2 separate regions of the Homo sapiens genome follow, and region 2 is linked to region 1. Evidence: fine-mapped expression QTL. A gene starts in region 1. The other region holds a variant in brackets. All regions are shown on one strand. Distances are from middle to middle. Region 1 holds the start of AP1G2 (adaptor related protein complex 1 subunit gamma 2). Region 2 overlaps ACIN1 (apoptotic chromatin condensation inducer 1).

Region 1 (9,351 bases):
TCGGAAAGGAGCAACCTGCTCAGCCATTGAGGACTGGGAACACATTGGCGCAAGATGATGGGGCTAGGAGGGAGAAACCAGCAAGCAGGACCTGTGTGGGTGAGGTGGTGGGCGGGGCCGTAGTGGGAGAGGCATAAGGGGTGATACCCGTAGGCCAGCTGCAGAGCGGATATCCATGATGGTGAGTACTGTCTCAAACAGGACCGCATTTCCGGCATTTCGGCTGGTGTCCGTGTTAGTGGCCACCTGAGTGGATGAGAGAGGAGATGTATCTGCTCAAGGCCCTCCTCAGGTCTCCTTTTTTTGATACAGGGTCTCACTCTGTCGCCCAAAGCTCACTGCAGCCTTGACCTCCCAGGCTCTGATGATCCTCCTGCCTCAGCCTCCTGAGTGGCTGGGACTACAGGCACATGCCAACAAGCCCAGGTAATCCTCAGGATTCTTGAAGGACTCCAACATGTTATCTGTCCATCCTTCAACCATCCAACAAAGTTCCCTGAGGCTCTACTATGTGCCAGGGCCAGCCTGGGCACTGGGGCAATAGCACTAAGACAGACTGTGTCCCTTCTTCATGGAGTTCACTGTCTAGAGGAGATGGAGAGGCAATTACACGGCCACTGCACAGTGACGAGTCATGTGAGGGGCACCCAGGGCTGATGGGGTCTCCAAGCAACACAGCTAACCAGTGCCCTCCCAGGCCCCACCTGGGCCAGCAAGTCATTCATGGTCTCACTGCTCTCCTCGTGGTTCCGGCCCAGGATCCGAAGCAGACGAAGTATCTGGACCTGAGGTTGGGTTGAAAATGGAAAGTTGGAGGGGTTCATAGGATAAGGAGTCGTGGGGCTGAGGAGAAAACTCCAACATGTGAGGGTCTGGCTCGCTCCCTAGAGCCTTCCCCCACCTCCTCACCTCCACAGGTCCCTTGGTCCTAGGAGGGGAACAGAGGTGTGTGAGGCCAGGGGAGTTTAGGACAGGCTTAAAAAAAAAATTGTTAACAAACTGTATTTTCCTGACTTTTAGGCATTCCCTCTCCCCTCACAGGTCCTGGGATGACCCGAGCAATCCTGTGCCTGCTACTCTGCTGCCCAGGACACTGAGAGAACCAGTGTTCTCTGGGAGGAAACCACTGGTCATGGTCTTACTGCTATGCCCTCTCTGATCCAGGGATACAGCAGTGAAAGGTCACCCCACCTGCAGGAAGGGGTCGCTGACTCCAGATATGCTGTGTTCTGTGGAGTATCCCATTGTCACCAGAGTCCGGAGGATGTGTACCAGCTGGGGTACCACCTGGAGGGAGGGCACAACTTTGGGCATTCGTTCTAATCCTCTCCAGCTAAAGCCCCATTCCTTCCCCACTGACCCTGTCTTCCAGGCCCAGGGCCTGCCCCTTCACCAGCCCACCTTTCGGAAGTGCCTGAGGGCTGCAGGGCTTCGTTCGCAGAGCTCCGTGATCAGCGTGATGGTGCCCAGCAGGATGCCTGGGGTCAGCGTCGGGGAAGTGAATGGTGGGGGCCAGGGGCAAGAGAGTCTATTGCGTGTGTGCCTGTGTGTGTGCACTACCCTTCTCCTGTGAGCTGGGGTTCCCATCCGATTTTCAATTCTTCTGTCCATAGACCTGAAGCAAAGGATGGGGGGCCCCACAGCCTTACCATGGTGACGCTCATGAAGCAGTTGGGCACAGGGTGGGAGGAAGACACTGGAGAGTTCAGGGACCTTCCGGATCATGTGCACTGCAGTCAGAATAGCCTGCAGAGGTCAGGGGCCTCAGACAGGGGTCAGAGGAGATGGACCCCTGCATCTACTACTATATAGCACGCAGCAGGCAGTGTGCAGGAGCACGTGCCAGGAGTCCCGCCATCTCACCTTCTTGCGCACGTAGGGACTGGGCTGCAGGAGCAGTTTCTCCACCTCTGGGGCCAGGTCTCGGCACATCTCAGCAGAGCCCATGGTGCTCAAAGTGCACAAGGCCAGGCCTTGTACTGGCTGAATCCCCTGGCTCAGGTCACTGCAGGGTTTGGGAGGACGGTCAGTCAAACCTCTGAGAAAATCAGTCCTTTTCAATACCCACAACAGGCAGTCCCCTGGGATTTCCAAGGTCCCTACTCTCCCATCTCCCTGATTCCAAGTGATTGCCAGAACCCTCTCACTTCTTGATGCTGTTGGTAATGAGCAGGTGGGCATCGTGCCTCTCATCCAATAGAAGCATGGCCCCCAGGTAGCCCACCCTCTTGTCTGTGAATCTGGAGGAGGCGATCAGTTTCAGGCACTCCATCTATAGTGAAGGGGGCAGACCAGGAAGAGGCAGGGGTGAAACCATAGACACTCACATCCCTGTTCCATCTTCCTCTTTAAAACCAGATTAACCTGTGGGGCATCATATCTCATCACTCTCCCTTCAACAAGAGGAGAAGCTTAGGAAATTCAGGCGTTAGTGGGTAGGAGGAACTAGGAGTTGAGGAGGATGGGAGCGGAGAGGAGGAGATGCCTGCCCTAAAGGAGGCTGGCCAGAGAATGAAGGGTTCAGGCCAGCTGATGACCAGTAGGGGTAGCAATGGGGAAAGAGGTTTGCAGTGCAGGCTGTGAAGACTCTGAAATTGTAGAATTTAAAAAACCAGGGCATAAACAGGTGAGAGAGTCTGGGACTCTGCCCCACTAGCCTTCATCAAGCTCAGGAGGGAGGTATTCCTGGCCAGTACCTGTCCAAAGTGGGCGGGGTAGCCCAACATGTGGACGTAGAGCAGTTTGGCCAGCTGCCGGTGCCTGTGCACTGGGTCCCCGTCGCGGAAGGAGGCCCGGATGTGGGCACACTCCTTTTGGATCACCTCCCGCTCCTGGGCCTGAGTCTTGGCCCCGCGAATCTCTTCGATGAGGTCCTGAAGCTTCAGCGAAGGCACCACCATCCTGACTGGCAGAGTCCGGGAGTGGAGAAACACTCTCTGGTCGGGCGTGCCTGGGCTTTCGGCCCAGGCCCGTCCTGTGTCAAGACCCTAAGAGCCCGGGTCCCACAGGTACCCTAAAATTGCGCCCGCATTTTACCTTTCCCGAAGTGGGTCTCCAAATTCCGCGCCCACCCCACCGCCCGAGAAGCCCACTACGCATGCGTCCGCACCCCACCGGCGCCCCTTCCTATTGAGCATGCGCGGGAGCCCCACCTATTTCTCTCTACCGTTTCCTCCCCCTACCTGGTACCCCATCCCTAGCTCAGCCATTGCTTTTTTTTCCACGACCCTCCGCTGTTTCTTCCGCGAGCTTCCTCCCCCGATTTCCATCTCAGGCAGCGGCAGCGGCAGCGACAGCCTGCCTACCCCAGGACTCCAGCCTCACCTGGCTTCTGCCTCAACTCCGCTCCTCTGCCCCCCAGCGCTTCCTGGTACGGGGCCGAGCAGGGGTTGGTGCTCCGTGCGGTCCTTCCCTCTCCCCGCCTCCACCACGGGACCCCGCCCTCCTGGGCCGACTGCAGAGCCTTCCTGAATCCTCTGACCTCGGGCCTCAGGCTTTAGCGGAGAGACAGCATGATAGGCCTGGAGTTCTTCAAGAGGCCTCCTCGCACATCCTTACCACCCGGAGAGCCTCAGTTTGGATTTGAAGCCATCGCACCCCAAAGGAGATGACAATCCCCCCCCTTTTTTGAACTTTTTTATTAATATATTTTTTTTGTTAAATTTCTTTGTATTTTTTTCCTGCAAGACTTGGTGTTGGCGGCACTGTTGTAGTTTAACTTCAATCCCAAATTCCATGAAATAGAAATCAGAAGTAAAGGTTGAGAGGGGAGGAAGGAGGGAGGCAAGCCAAGGAATAAACAAGAGTTTGACTAGAAAAAAAGAAGAGGGTATGTGTGGTGGGCATTCCTGGGCAAGGCCATTCCTTGAGGGAGGGGGTTGGCAGGCAGCTTGCCTCTGCCTCATGCAGGGGAGGGAGGAAAGATCCCCTGGGGACCCTGCAGTCCCCTCTTCCTAGGGCTTCCTGCTCCCAGGGGAAAAACTAATACCAGAGAGGGATCAGCCACAACCTCAAACAGGGCTCTCCACCCACCTGTCACCCGGGTTTGACTCCCACCTCTGCCCTGCCTGGGAAGCATGTGAGATCAGCTATCTTTGATCCCCTCCTTCTGTTGTTTTCCCATTTCACAAGATTCTGATGTAAAGGGGGAAGGGATATAACCCATTTTGGGACTACTAAACTTGTCACAGCTTCTGCTTCCATGTGAGCTCCTGTTATCTTGTCTGGTCCTATCCCCCAGAAGTGCCTCCTCCCACCACAACTCCCAGAGTTGGGATGTGGGGGCCTTGCTCAAGTGCCTCTAACCCTCTGCAGTAGAAATGTCTTCTTCAGGCCCCTTAGGAATTTAATCAAAGGCCACAAGTGAGTCCAGACCAACCAAATAAACTATTATGGGGGAGACAGAAGGGTGGGAGAAGTCAGTGGCAAAGTCTGGGCAGGGTGGACTTGACTGCATTGGATATTCTCTGTTCCTTTACACGTTGCTCTTGGCATGGCATGCCACCAGAGGGGGCTGGAGGAGGGGCTGGCCGATGAGGAGAAAAAGAGGGAAATGCTGGGGAGTTACTCTACTTTTCACTTCCCTTCTCTCCTTCAGGGAAGGATGGAATTGGGCAGTAACCCAGCTCAGTGCTTGGAGGTAAGATAATAGCCTCCAAGATTAGAGGTGGAGGATGCACCTCCTGCAGCTTTTTCACTAGGCCTCAGAGGGACAGCAGGCCCCTTAGGCTAGGGAGCCACAGCAGCTCAGCCAGTGCCTTGCCCGACATTCAATCACTCCTTCTTCATTTTCTTCCTCCTCTCCATTCAGCTTCCAGGAGTCTCCTTAGGACACCAAACCCCCACCCGCAGCGAAGTTGAGGTCTAAAGAAAAGGTGGGAGGGCGTGGAGCAATGGTCTGACTTAGATTTGTGTGTCTCAGAGAAGACAGCAACTCTGAGAGAGAAAAGCCCTTCATATGTAAACAATCTAGAGAAAGAAGGGGTTGGGATGGGGAAGGGAGTGAGGAATACAGAGACAGATCCAGAAGAAATGAGATAATCTGAAAGAAGACAGGGAAAGAAAAAGCGAGAGAAAAAAACAAAGGAGCACAGAAAAGAAAGGAAGAAGAGAAAGAAAGATAGGAGAAAACACAGCCAGGAAGAGGAGAAGAGAAAAAAGGCAGGTCAAAGGGGTGAAGAGGCACGCAACCAAAGCCAGAACCAGGCCAGGAAGTAGCCTCAGGTGAGGAGCTGGGAGAACAGGAATGCCAGGCTGAGGTCCAGGAGGGCCACGGCTCCCACCACCAGGGGGTTGGCAGCTCCCTAGAGAGACAGAGGGGGAAGCAGACTCAGTCCCCGAGGACAGGGCCCACCTTCCTGCCCTGACTGAGGTGGCAGAGCTGAAGGGTCTCAGGCACCTCCCTGCACAGCCTGGAGCAGGGGGATCGCCAACATTTGTTTTGGATTGCAAAACCCCCTCTTCTCCCAGGCAGGGCCCCACCTTTCCTCTGACACCTTCAATGCAGGGACAGCCCTTCCACCTCCTCCCTCTAGTCCCCTCCCATCAGCATATCATGTGTCCCAGGCAGGAGGTGCCTGGCCTTAGTAGCAGACATTGGCAGCAGCAGCCAGTACTGCAGTAAGGCAGAGGGATGAAGGGGTGAGGATGTGGTTGCTAGGAAACAGAAGGCCTAGAGCCCAATCAGAGTAGAGGGTTCTGGGCAAACTCCGCCTCTCCCGGTTTTCTGCCTTCTTCTCTATTTCAACTTCTTCCCGGGAGAGGGAGGGAGAGTCAGGGTAGGGAGGGAACAATCTTTTCCTTTTTTATTTCTGGGCACCAAAGAGAGAAAGTGCGGAGGTGGGGGTGGGGGTGGAGTAGGAAACTGAGAGCTGGAAATGATATGGAAGGAGAACGGGGGAAAAATGTTCTGGCTCTCCCATTAATTATTAGTTTACAACCCTGGGCAAGTTACTTTTTTTTTTTTTTTTTTTTTTGAGACAGAGTCTCGCTCTGTCACCCAGGCTAGAGTGCAGTGGCGCGATCTCAGCTCACTGCAGGCTCCGCCTCCCGGGTTCACGCCATTCTCCTGCCTCAGCCTCCCAAGTAGCTGGGACTACAGGCGCCCGCCACCACGCCCGGCTAAATTTTTTTTGTATTTTTAGTAGAGACGGGGTTTCACTGTATTAGCCAGGATGGTCTCGATCTCCTGACCTCGTGATCCGCCCACTTCGGCCTCCCAAAGTGTTGGGATTACAGGCGTGAGCCACCGCGCCCGGCCTGGGCAAGTTACTTTAAGTGCTCTGGGCCTCAGTTCCCCCATCTGTCAAATGAGGGAGTTGGGCTTGCAGGTGTGTAAGGTTCCTTCCAGCTCGAACGCCCTCTATTTTTTTGAGGTGGGATGTGGTCCAAGACTGGCCAGGCAGAGGAAGCCGAGTGAGATAAAAAGCCCCCCCGGTGATCAGACAGTTCTGGAAAGGGTGGGAGGCAAGGCTTTGGGAGAAGAGGGCACACAGCAGGGACAGAGGATCTCACCGGCTGGGCAGGCCTCTCGGTTGCAGCGGGCTCCCCGAGCTCTTCTGTCAGGCACCCAGCATCAGGACCCCTCGAGGACGAGCCCCTCAGGACCAGCATGGCGATGGGCTCAGGCTCCGTGCCTGCTGGGGCCCTCAGCGGGGGCAGGGGCTCTTCATCCTCCCCCTCCTCCTCTCGAAGACTTCCTGAACTGTCGCTGCAGCCTCCGAGGAGTGGGGAACCGTCTCTGGGCCCTGGCCCTTGCATCCCAGCCTCATCCTCAGCCTCATAGCCAGCTAGTTCCTCTGCCTGTGCGCCTGCCCCCCCCCACTCCTCAGGCCAAGCTTTGGGGCTGGAGAAGGGACCCTGGTCCCCTCCAGGAGGCAGTGGGCTCCGGCAGGCAGGGGGTCGCCAGGGTTGGCGGGAGGAGGCAGGACTGCTGGGCAGTTCAGGGGATCCCTCTGAGGGGGTCAGTCCGTTCTCATATACCCCAGGGCTGTCCTCATCCAGGGGCTCCGTGTCGGAACCTTCTGAGTCCTGCCTGGGTCTGCGGCCTGGGTAGGGATAGCTGAGAATCAGAGGGGCCTAACTGGCCTTGGGCTGGAGTGGCTGCAGCTTTATTCCTGACTGGGCACTTCCCAGGACTTTGGAATTCCCAGGCTCATAGCCTCTCACCGCCAGACCCCAAACCCCCCATTATCCTACTGCATACATTCCCAAGTCCCACTCCCCAGACTACCAGGTCTGGCCCCCACCCTGTGTTCCTTGCACCCTCATTCCTTGTTTTTTCCCATCCCCACTTCCCTTGCAGGGCTTCTCATCTGTTTCCCCACACCTGAGCCTCTCTAGCTCCCTAGGGGCCTCACTGCCCTCCCCCCAGCTGTCCATGCCTCACCTGGGGCCTCTAGCATGGGCTGCAGGTCCTGGGCTATCAGTTTGGCCATTCGAGCTGCCTCCACGGCCTTCTCAGCGACACTGCTGGCTGCCACTGCCTTTAGGAGGGCGTCTGCTGCCCTGTCGGGTCCAGAGACAGGGATTTAGCAGAACTTCCCCCACTTCAAGTTAGTCCCTGCTCAGATGCTCCAGCCCCCTAGCCCCTGTCCCCTCTACATCACATCCTCCTCTCCTCTGGAGTCGTCACCCTTCGCCACACTCTGCCAGCTGCTTCCCTTCCTGGCAGGCCAGGGCAGCTCCCGTTTGGTTTCCTCCCCCTGACCTGGGCTGTGTTTGCCACCATCACACCCTCCTGCTCCTCTCACACCCTTCTACTGCTACGTCCTGTAGTAACACTTCTTCCAGTTGCAAGGGCCAGGCCCTCCTGGAACTGTGTAATTCCATTCCTATCCTGCCCCCTTCCCAGTGACAGTCGAGACCTCACTCTTTTAGCACATCCCCTGCAGTCCTGCTTGGTGCTTATGAGCTATACTACCACCTTCTTTGCAGTTAGCACCTCCTGTTGTTACTAACCCCTCTCACCCCCCTGGAGTCACAGGCCTCTCTGTGGGGTCTAGCACAGGGTCCTGTACCTTGATCCTCCCCTCCAAGCAGCTTCGCCCCTGCCCCGCCCCCTCGTTCAGAGCCACCGTCTCCCTTATGTTAACAGTCTCTGCCTCCCTTTCTCTTTCTACTGTCACTTCTCCTTACTATTAATCCTACCTCTACCCGTACAGATTTCCTGGCATGAGAACTTCCTATCTTGCGTTCCTTCAGCCTCTTCTGTTATGACACTGTTCTTCCTCTTGTCACTGCTACCACCCCACTGCCCCCCGTCATGCTTTCCTGAGCTCTGGAACTGGAATGAGAGTGGGTCTCCCCTTTCGGTAATGATCCCATCCCCTCTCCCTACTAACATGCAATATGCTTTCTCACCATTGCAACTACACTTCTGGCTAAACCCTTAGTCTCCCTTCCACAACCCCCTACCACCTTCCCTGCTCCTTAGGTGCAGGCAGCCTGGGAGTCTGATCAGTCCTTCCCCACTGTTGCTTCTCAGTTCTCCCTGTGATGTCAGATGCTTCCTCAGTTTTCTCTTCCCTTTCACCCTCTGCTGTTAATCGTAGATGCCTTGTCATCCTTAAATGAGTTCTGTAATTCTGAGGGTGGGGCACAAAAGAGCTGAGGAAAAGGCAGGCCGACGAGCTGCCATGGGCTTGAATTGATCACACCCCATGACTTCCTCTGGCCACAGGCCTGTTCTCTCTGGCTCAGGAAGGCAGTCTGGTATGGGGGTGGGGAAGAGGATGGTGATATCTACTGTGCATATTCTTAGTCCATAGCCTCTTCTTTATGTTCTTTGGGAGCCGTGATTAGCCCCTTCTCCTCAAACCTGGTGGGTCAAAGATCTTTAGAGCCTATTTGGAGGGATCTCAGATAACGTGGCTCTTCTGTCTTAGGACTCTCAGATTGTATATAACTAGCCCTGTCCTGAAACTGAGCTGGACTCAGGGTGCACAGCGGGCACATGTGCAGTCTCCTGCCTCTGGCCCTTCAGTGGGGCAAAGTCAAGGAGAAGGTGGACAGGGCTGTCAAGGGCACCTGTTGAGCCGTGAGCGTGAGGATCATGGTCTTGGGTTGTATTGAGTTATTTTGGTGGCCTGAAACTGGTGCACTGATGAGGCCTGTTTTTGTGTATGAAGAGTATGGATGATCAAGTCCCACACAGTAGACTTAGTCTGTGCTCAGGCATCAGACTCAGGCCAGGCTCAGGCTACCTGGCAGAGGCACCTGCTGCTGAGGCTCTGCTGTTTCCATGGCAGCTGGCAGCCAGTCGGGATTGCCAGGCCTGTTGCTGGGGAGACCAACCAACCTCCTCCCACTGCCTGATCCTCTAGTTACTGAGATCAGTTTTTCCTGCACATG
Region 2 (9,351 bases), 500 kb before region 1:
TACAGACAACGGAGATCTTCCTCTTGAATGATTTGGGCAGCGAGCTCTGTATGAAGAAGAAAAAGGGGAAAAAAAAGAGAAAGAGAGACACCCCACAGAGAGGGGGGAAGGAGGTTAGATGGGGCAGTCTTAGCTTAGCCTCCAAAGACACAGATAGAGTGAGAGAGAGAGACAGAGAGAGACACAGAGACAGACAGAGACCAAAACAGAAGCGGCAAACGGCAAAAACGAAGCAGAATCAATGCAAGTTAGAGAAAAAAATAAAACTAAACATCAGAGCAGGGAAAAGTCATCTACTCCGTATCACACCTGTGTATTAGCTTAACCAGAAATAAGCTGGAAGAGGAGTTCAGTAGCCTCTCAGCCCCCTAAAGATGTTGGTCATACCCCCTCTTTCACCGTCTGAGTCGAGAGGACACCAAGCCAAACAAACTGTGCCCCAAACTGGGTCATCTAGTCCTCCCAGGTCCTTCCTTGCTAACTCGAGGAAACAAGGAAAACCAACTTTGGATGGCAACTTCAACAAGGTAACCCTCCTTTCTTCAATGGCCAGACTGATGCCCACTGACAATGGCTTTGAGATGCTTGGACAGCAGACTGTCATGTCAAGACTGCCCAGACCCCCACCACACTGTGGAAAAGGGCAGCACCAGACCCACTGGAGATGAGGCTCTTGAGCCAAGTGCTAGCAAAAAGAACTCAAAGGTGTCTTTGATAAAGGAAGGTTTTTATGAAGGGCAGATTGTCCCCAAGGAGATCCTTAGACTTTCCAGCCACCGCAGGGAGCTCCAGCAGAGTCTTACTGTTTCCTCTCCAACCAGGGCTCAAGCCTTAGGGGCTCTGCCAAAGACCAGAAGACATCTTTGGGACAAGTCTCTACCCCAAACACTCAGTGGGTGAATGACGAAAGACTATGGGGGGCGGGGGAGAAAAGTGAGAGAGAAAAAGGGAATAGAGTATTTTCAAGTGTAGGTGCTTATTTCTGGAAAAACTAAGACCACTCTACCACTCTTCTAAAGGGTAGGGCAGAAACCTCGTGATGAAATCCCTTTCCCATCCACCCCCACCCGCAGCCCCGTTTGTGTCGTCTAACCAAGTCTCCTTGGTCTCTGTTAAGGGCCAGCCTGACCCCTAGCTGGGCCGCTCTCGATGGGTAAGTTAGTGAGAAAAACAAAACAAAAAAAAAGGTCTTAATTAAAACAGGAAAAACATGAACCAAATAAATAAATAAAAGAAATCAGAAAAAATAAAGATATAGAAAAAAATAAAATAAAATATTAAAAAAAGAAGAAGAAAATAAAGAAGAAAATAAACTAGGAATATGACAAATGTTCCAGGTACCATCTCACACCTGGGATCTTCAGTTCAGCCAATCGCACCTCACTGTGTACTGTATCTAGTCAACCGCCGGTCCAATCAGAATGAGCCCTCCCTGCTAGGCGCTGTGCAATTGGTGGGGGGTTGGGTTGGCAAAAAAGGTGGGCGCACGGCGTGGTAGTCAGCACGGCACTGCCAGAGTCCTCCCAGGGGCGCAGGGGGGGCGGGAGGGAAACGTGTGGGGGGACGCTGCCCAGTTTCCATGATGTCAAGACAGTTCACTGGCGGTGGCCAGGCTCAGCGAGGGATAGAGGGGGGAAAGGGGCAGAGACATCAGTCCTGGCCCTGAAGGGACATCATCTTGCAGTCCCTGATGAGATGGCCTGTGAGTAGCAGGAATGATCCTTGCCTTTTATCGTGAGAGGCAGGCAGGACCCTATGTCCACCAGTGGCAAGCTGCAGCAATAACACCACCCAATACTTGGAATCCAGGTGATGACTCCAGAGTCCCTTTCTCCTCTGCCTGTAACTGGGGAGGGGGTCCTCTCACCGAGTGGGATCATGGAGCCTCTGATGAAGGTAGCCTGGGGGTAGGTGAATACCCCAGGACCTGGCAGACATTCAGCAGCAAGGTCAGAATACTTCTCTTCGGAGAGTTGTGGCTGGCATCTCCTCAGGGACTCCAGCTGAGACAGTGGTTCCAGTCAGGTGGATGAAATGAGTCCCTGCCTCCAGGGATGGAGGAGAAGTTGGAGCAACCAACATGCTGCCCTTCACCATGGACAACAGGGACCAAAGGAAAGTCCATCTGATGAGCAAGTGGTGACACATGGGCTGGGCTGTCATCAGCATTAAATCCCCAGGGGCTCAGACCCTAGACTCCTCTGCACGGTTCCTAGTCGTCACAGCTTAAGTAGAGGGTCCCACTCAGTGTTTTACAGCATGGCACTGCGATCACAAACTTTAGGAGGTCTTGGTGCCCTAGATGGGGATCCCAACAGTCTGTAGCAAACAAGGCAACCCACAGTCCTCAAAAGGGCAAGGGCATGTGGGCAGGCGCCCCAGCACTGGCACAAGCTCTTCTTGGGGTGTCCCAAGTAGGGAGATGATGCAAGTCCACCCCTTTCCAAATGTTTTTTGCTTGCTCAATACAAGTCTCTCCAGAACAGTGTTCTTCTTGGCCCCCTGATGTAAGCAAGACAGGGAGGCAAAAGGGGGCCCATCACAGGAGCCCATATACATGCCCCCCTCTGGCCAAGACACCTGGATAGCAGACTTGGCTCTGATTGGGCAGCTCAGTAGCAGCGGGTGGGTCCAGAGGAAGAGGCGGCATCAGCGATTGGCCAGTTGGGCAGGGTTATATTTTACGGGCGGATTACCGTACATGAGGTACTTGGACAAAGTTTTACGGGGAAGAAGGACCTTGTAATAAATAATATTCTGCACATCAAATCACTTTCACCGGCCCCCACCCCCGCAACACACACCAGAAAAAGGCTACACACACAACAGTCCCTCCCACCTTGTTACCCCTCTCCTAAACCCAGCTCATTCTTTCTCAATTACTTTAAGAGCCAAGAAGACTTCGCTGGCTCTGATGGGGGAAGCCCCCTGAAGTGGGTGCAGGACACAAGATAACATATGCCAAAAAAGGAGGTAGAGGGGTCACAGGTAACTGAGAATGGGCCTTCCGGATCACAAGTGCTGGCTTCTAAGTAGCTACATCTCTGCAGTCAGACCACTGGAGGGCAGAGGAGGAACAAAAATTTCTCAGCATGGCTGGTCTGGTGAGAACCACCAATGTCCACTAGATGGCGTTGGGCTCCATCAGGCTTTTAAAAAGGAGGGAAAGCTAAAGGAGTTACCACCAGGAGAAGCTTGGGAAGACAGCAGGAAAAGCTGAACATAAATCTTAGATAAAGGGCCATTATCAGACTTTCCCGTTAGTTACAAACGTCTAGAGTCTGGGCACTACTTCCCCAACAAGGAAAGGAAAATGAATGAGCCCTGTCCCCGTCACAAGGGGTCTCCCTTGCTAAACCAGCGAATTCTCCCTTGGCCCTATTCTGATCCAAGTCCCTGCCTCATCCCTCCTTTAAGTTAACCCACCGTGTAAGAGGGATCACTAGAGTGCTCTACTCTTTCCCCTAGGTCCATTCCTGCCCACCCGCCCCAATAGGTGGCTTGGATGTTTACCTCTTTCTTCTCCTCATCTTCAACACTGCCCTCCGGGCGGTCATCATTGCTGACTTGGTCTGCAATAGGCATGGGAGGTTCTGGAACATCATTTTCAGGTCTGTTTTCACTTGTGTCCATGGTCACTTCCTCCTTCTCCTCACTGACAGGAGGGGGGAGTGGTGGTGGGGGGGCGGGCAGAAAAGAACCAAGGGGAAGAGAGAGCAAGATGTTAGTTACTGGGTCAGGAAACCCTCCTGCCTCATCACTTGGGTGGGATTAGGAGGGCTGCTTTTCTGATCAAGGTTAGAGACCTTGTCCCAATGGGAAAAGTGGGAAATAGATTTTCCTTGGGGAAAGAGCGTGGATCACAGCAACCACATCCACCTATTGCCCAGATGAGTTAAAAGTTGTCATTTGTGGGGTTAGGACTCCAACTATTCTCAGGTAATAACTCACCAGAGTACTCCTATATGAAAGGAGAAAAACCCTCCTCTGAAAATAGTCCCACAAAAGTGACTGTGATTTGCCCACAACCCTGTGGCCTCAGTCTCCCTGGCCAAAGGCACCTTTATATGGCAAAATTGCACGAGAAACGAAGGGAAGCCCGATTCCCTTAAAAAGACAAGAAAGAATGGCCAAGGCTTTGGCAAAAAAGCCTGACCTGTGTTTAATCAACTGCTTAATAAGTAAAGGCCTGCTGATCCTCAGGATCTGGAGACACCAGCATGGAGAAAATGGTGGGGGGTGGGGGGTGCGGGGCGGGGGGTGGGAGCTGCAGGGAAGAAGCAGGCCTGGTGAAGGTTCAAGCTTCAAGGACCCTCTCTCATTCAAAAGGAAAAATTAAAACTGCTGAATTGAGTATGAGAGCTCAGAGATTAGGGCCACTTTTACCTGCTCAGAGGTGTAGAAACTGTTCCTACATTCGGCTTTCACCCAGTTTCTCCCACTCCCTCATTCCAACTTCCAAGAGATAAAGAGAGCAGGCCTCCTAGTCAGGACACACCCTCCCCCACACAGGCAGCTTCCCCCAAGAACACCAAACCCACTCTCCCACTCTTAATCTCACAAGTTAGCTCCCATTTCAGGCAAAGAATCCCAGAGATTCACTTCAGATAAACTATCTTTCCACCTTTGATTTCTGTCTTCGTCCCCAACTTCTATCTCAAATCTCACCCCCTCTACCACCCAAACACCAAGCAAAAAAAATCAAATCAAGATGATCAGAGGCCTAAGGCTCAGGAGAGGGGAAACCAAGCCTCCCAGGCCGATAACCACCACCAGAAAAGTCAGCATTCCCAACAGGCTGACTGACTGACACTCAGAGGTCAGAAGAACCTCCCTAGAGCAGTCAAGAAGGGATGCACTAGGGGGGTTAGGGGGAGGGGAAAATCGGAACTGTGCCCCCAGCTAAACAGGCCCCCAGAGAAACACGAGATTTAGCTGCTTACATCTAGAGAAAAGGCTTATACAAAAAAAATATCTATTTCCCATACAGAAAGGGCATGTGGGGCCAATTAGAAACTGGGCAGGCAGGACAAAGGGGGAAGGCAGAATGACTGAAAACAAACCAAAACGAAAGACGGAATGAAAGCCATGAGGAAGAGAAGGAAGACGAAGGGAGCTAGGGCGGCGGGGAAAAGGCATACATGGAAATGTGAAGCTCTCACCCTTCTTTGCTTTCTGATAACATGATTTTTTTTCTCCCCCTGGAAGTGCTGTTTATCCCTTTCTGGAATGGAAGAAATAACAAAAACCAAACAAAAAAAATCCTAAAAAAAATAAAGAAAAAAAACCACACCTTCCTTGTTCCAAGATCCCACCACCTCCTCCCCAGCCACCCGATCCAGAGAGAGAAAATTGAGATGTAGCAACCGGGGATCCAAAAAATGGTAAATGGAAGGGGAGGTGGTGGTGGTGCGGGGAGGCTAAAACAGATCTGGCTTTTAAGAGATAAGCGTTAAGTCCTCACGGCAAACCCCGAGTTCGGCTGGATTGGTCTCTCTGGAG[A/G]AGGAGGAAGAGGGCCAGGCTGCTGGTAGTGGCTGGCTCTATTGTATTGGCGGAGCGGCAGCGATCAGCCGGAGACATGCAGGGGAGCCATCTTGCCACTTACCCAGCAGCCTGTGTGTGCGGATGGGGGAGGGCCTTGCTGCAGCAGGGGAGGGGAAAGAAAAGAGGGAGGGAGCTGAGTGAGCAAGGTTCTTATCCTTTGGCAGGCCACAGGGAGCCGACTGCTGGCTCCAGAGGCCTGGCCTTCTTTTCTCAAGTTACAGCAGCTACAGAGGCTTAACCCCCCAGGGCTGGAGTGCTCCCTCCTGGTCTTCCCAGGGGGCAGGGGAGGGGGCTGGGTGGAGGACATGTAAAGTTACAGCTGCTTGATTGGAAGATTCTAGAAAATAGAGAGAATAGAAGGCAGGCAAACAGTAGAGGTGGGAGTGAAAAAGGATTAAATAAGAACGATAAAGCCAAAGTTGAAAAGTGATTAAAGAAGGATGGTAATGAAAGCTGGATAGAGGGTGGGGCATGAGCAATGTTTTATGTGCCTACCATCCTCTATCCAGTAATCTAGGCATGGAACACTGAAACCAGACCAACCAGTCAGATGCTGCAGGTAGGGAGGTGGGATGGGAATTGTCACTATCCAATCACTACAGTAACTGGCTGCTCACCCCGGCAATGACCACGTGTTACTACTCCAACATGTCCTTTTCCCAGGGATGGTGGAGGGAAGTGGATAGCAGGGAGAGTTCTTTTTTCAAATACCAGTAGAAGGGGGGCAGGGTTGGTGTCTCTGAAGAGATGACAGACAACTTTGTTTTATAGAGTCTTTAATAAGGTCACCCTGCCCCAGGGTCCACTCGGGCCAGAAAAAGAAAGGATAAACAGGGCAAGGGGACCTTGGGTAGCTGAAGCTTGAAGGCCACTTCTTGAAGCAAGGGCTCCAAGGTGAGGCTCTAAAGTAGATAAGACAGTGAAGTGAGAGTGCTGCTATATGGGGCGGGGAAGATCAGCTGGGCAGAAAGCGACTGGGAACTAAGCAGAAAATATTAATCATGGGAATCTTCACTAGACCAAAGTGGGAAACAGATGCTAATAGTTCAAAAAGTGCTCAGTAGATACTCAAAATGCTTATTTGTTGACTGCAGAGATGTTCCTTTTGTGTCCTAGTGGCAGTAGAAGTTTACACTAAGATAAACTTCTGAGAACCAAAGCTCAGTGTCTCGTGTAACATTTGAGCTTTTAAGCTAGGAATGAAATTTTCTCCCCGCTGCTTAAAATCTTACACTTACAATGCCAACTGCATGCTAAAGTGGCCATATTTATACATTACTTTAAATGTTTCCTTTCACATAGTGGTCCCTGTCTGCTCAGGGTTAAGAGTGAAGACTCTGGAGTCAGACTGGCTAGCCCCACTCTGTTAAAAGTTGTGTGATAGTAGGCAAGTTCCTGGTTCTGTATATCTGTCTTGTAATCTGCAAAGTGGGCATAGTGACAATACCTATTTCATGGAACAGTGTAGTTAAGTGTTAGCTCTTAAGAGTCTGGCTTGGAGGACACCCCAAGTGAAGGTACAGATACATGTAAAATACATGCACACTTAATAGGCCATTATCTCATCTGATGCCACCTCTGGGGCTCTGAGTTTCCTCAAAAGAGTAGACTGCTTGTTTTCTGAGGCAAAGCCATTCAGTGATTGGCATGACAGGTTTTCAGCAATGCCCTTATCACTCTGTATAATAACTGCTACTTTATCTGCCCCCCATCTCTACCCTGCATAATTCCTCAAGGGTAGGGATTGCATCTCTTGGCCCCTAGCCCAGGGCCTAACACAAAGTAATGTTCCCTAACTATTTCTGAATTAGGGTGTCATTGTGGGTACCAAGTGGACACTTACTAAATGCTTGCTAACCTAAAAGTTTTCTTATTGAAAAAAAAATTTTTTGGCTGGGCATGGTGGCTCACGCCTGTAATCCCAGCACTTTGGGAGGCTGAGGTGGGCGGATCACCAGCCTGACCAACATGGAGAAACCCTGTCTCTACTAAAAACACAAAATTGGCTGGGCGTGGTGGTGCATGCCTGTAATCCCAGCTACTCGGGAGGCTGAGGCAGGAGAATCACTTGAACCCAGGATGCAGAGGTTGTGGTGAGCCGAGATCGTGCCATTGCACTCCAGCCTGGGCAACAAGAGCAAAACTCCATCTCAAAAAAAGAAAAAAATTTTTTTAATAGAATCCCCACAAACAATGTTACACCACAGAAAATGTTACCTTCAGCCATCCTCAAATAAAATGCTCTGTTTATCCACTGTCCTAAAATACTCTCAGCTGCTAATATGCCTCTGCAGAAGTGGCTGATTTTGAGAAATTTTGTTATTGAAAATTCCTTTTTTTTTTTTTTTTTGAGACGGAGTCTCACTCTGTTGCCCAGGCTGGAGTGCAGTGGCACAATCTCAGCTCACTGCAAGCTCCGCCTCCGGGGTTCACACCATTCTCCTGCCTCAGCCTCCCGAGCAGCTGGGACTACAGGCACCCTCCATTACACCCGGCTAATTTTTTGTATTTTTAGTAGAAACGGGGTTTCACTGTGTCAGCTAGGATGGTCTCGATCTTCTGACCTTGTGATTCGCGCGTCTCGGCCTCCCAAAGTGCTGGGATCACAGGCGTGAGCCATCATGCCCGGCCGAAAATTTCTTTTTTTTAAGAATAAGAATCTTACCACGTTCTCCTTTACCCTCTTAAGACACAAGAGGCGTGTGTTTTCTATTTCCCCATGATCAATTCTGTGGGACCCAACAATTCCGAACATTTTATTTTCAGACAATAATGAGGGCCGGGCATGGTGGCTCACGCCTGTAATACCAACACTTTGGGAGGCTGAGACAGGAGGACTGCCTGAGGCCAGGAGTTTGAGACCAGCCTGGCCAACATGGTGAAACCCCATCTCTATTAAAAATAGAAAAATTAGCAGGGTGTGGCAGCCGCGTCTATAGTCCCAGATACTCAGGAGGCTGAGGCATGATAATTGCTTGAACCCAGGAGGCGGAGGTTGCAGTGAGCAGAGATCGGGCCACTGCACTCCAGCCTGGGTGACAGAGTGAGACTCTGTCTCCAAAAAAGAAAAAAGATAAAGAGGAATCCTTGAAACTGTCCCCAAAATGGACTCTATCTACTTGCAGGACTAGTACCAAAACCTTGTTAACCATGTGTCAGAGCCCAACATAGCTTAACAGTCTGTGAAACTGCACAGAATAAGCAGTGGGGATATCTACCCATAAGTAAACAGTACACAAAGAAGCCCAGAAGAAAAGGGTACAACTACTTGGAGGCTAATAATATCACATTACAACTCATATGTGAATATGAGATTCAGAGAAGCTAATGGAAAAGGAAATTCCTATAGGCATATATGCTGAAATTTTAGTTATTATAGAAAATTCACGAGGAGCTGAAAAACTGACGTGAAAATTTAATAAGAAACAGTGGGACTAGATACCCTCAGAAGCATACTGGTCCCAAGATAACCTAGAACAGTATGATTTTGGGGTATATGTCCTTAGATAATTTCTCAGTGGAGCAAACTCTATTGATGACAACAAATTCTGCTTTTTCATGCATCATTTGGGATATTGGCATTGTATGTCCCCTGGGGAATATCAATTACACCATCATATTGGCTTAAGGAACCAATACCTTCCTCCTACACAGGCAGAAGGACAAACATGCATTGTACCAAGAGCCTAAAACTGCTATTGCCTGCTAGGTCTGTGCATACAGGAAGGTTGTATCTAGAGAAATCCAGGTCTGAATTAACTACAGCTGAATGATACAGCTGCCCACACAAACAAATCCCCTCTTTTC

What was found. PIP is the estimated chance that this variant, and not a neighbour inherited with it, causes the effect.
Region 2: its variant is fine-mapped to the expression of AP1G2 in T cells (TOPMed, PIP above 0.99).

What each region holds. Positions count from the first base shown.
Region 1 is chr14:23,564,415-23,573,765 of GRCh38, forward strand. It overlaps AP1G2 (adaptor related protein complex 1 subunit gamma 2), which reads right to left and starts at 3,377. Exons shown (of 22, transcript NM_003917.5): 1 at 3,325-3,377; 2 at 2,697-2,905; 3 at 2,148-2,272; 4 at 1,864-2,005; 5 at 1,650-1,746; 6 at 1,402-1,478; 7 at 1,192-1,287; 8 at 705-785; 9 at 148-246. The coding sequence starts at 2,900. It overlaps JPH4 (junctophilin 4), which reads right to left. Exons shown (of 6, transcript NM_001146028.2): 4 at 7,388-7,506; 5 at 6,514-7,046; 6 at 3,624-5,303. The coding sequence ends at 5,220. AP1G2-AS1 (AP1G2 antisense RNA 1) reads left to right here. Exons shown (of 4, transcript NR_110555.1): 2 at 313-426; 3 at 1,042-3,008; 4 at 3,275-3,662. RefSeq lists enhancers at 2,590-2,679, 2,710-2,949 and silencers at 3,430-3,479, 4,469-4,568.
Region 2 is chr14:23,065,963-23,075,313 of GRCh38, forward strand. ACIN1 (apoptotic chromatin condensation inducer 1) reads right to left here. Exons shown (of 19, transcript NM_001386863.1): 9 at 3,514-3,655; 10 at 4-46. Among named protein-coding and RNA genes, the nearest start is that of CDH24, 13 kb to the left of the region's middle. RefSeq lists enhancers at 2,500-3,024, 3,172-3,221, 3,302-3,391, 5,422-5,491. The variant A/G (reference allele first, on the strand shown) is at 5,503.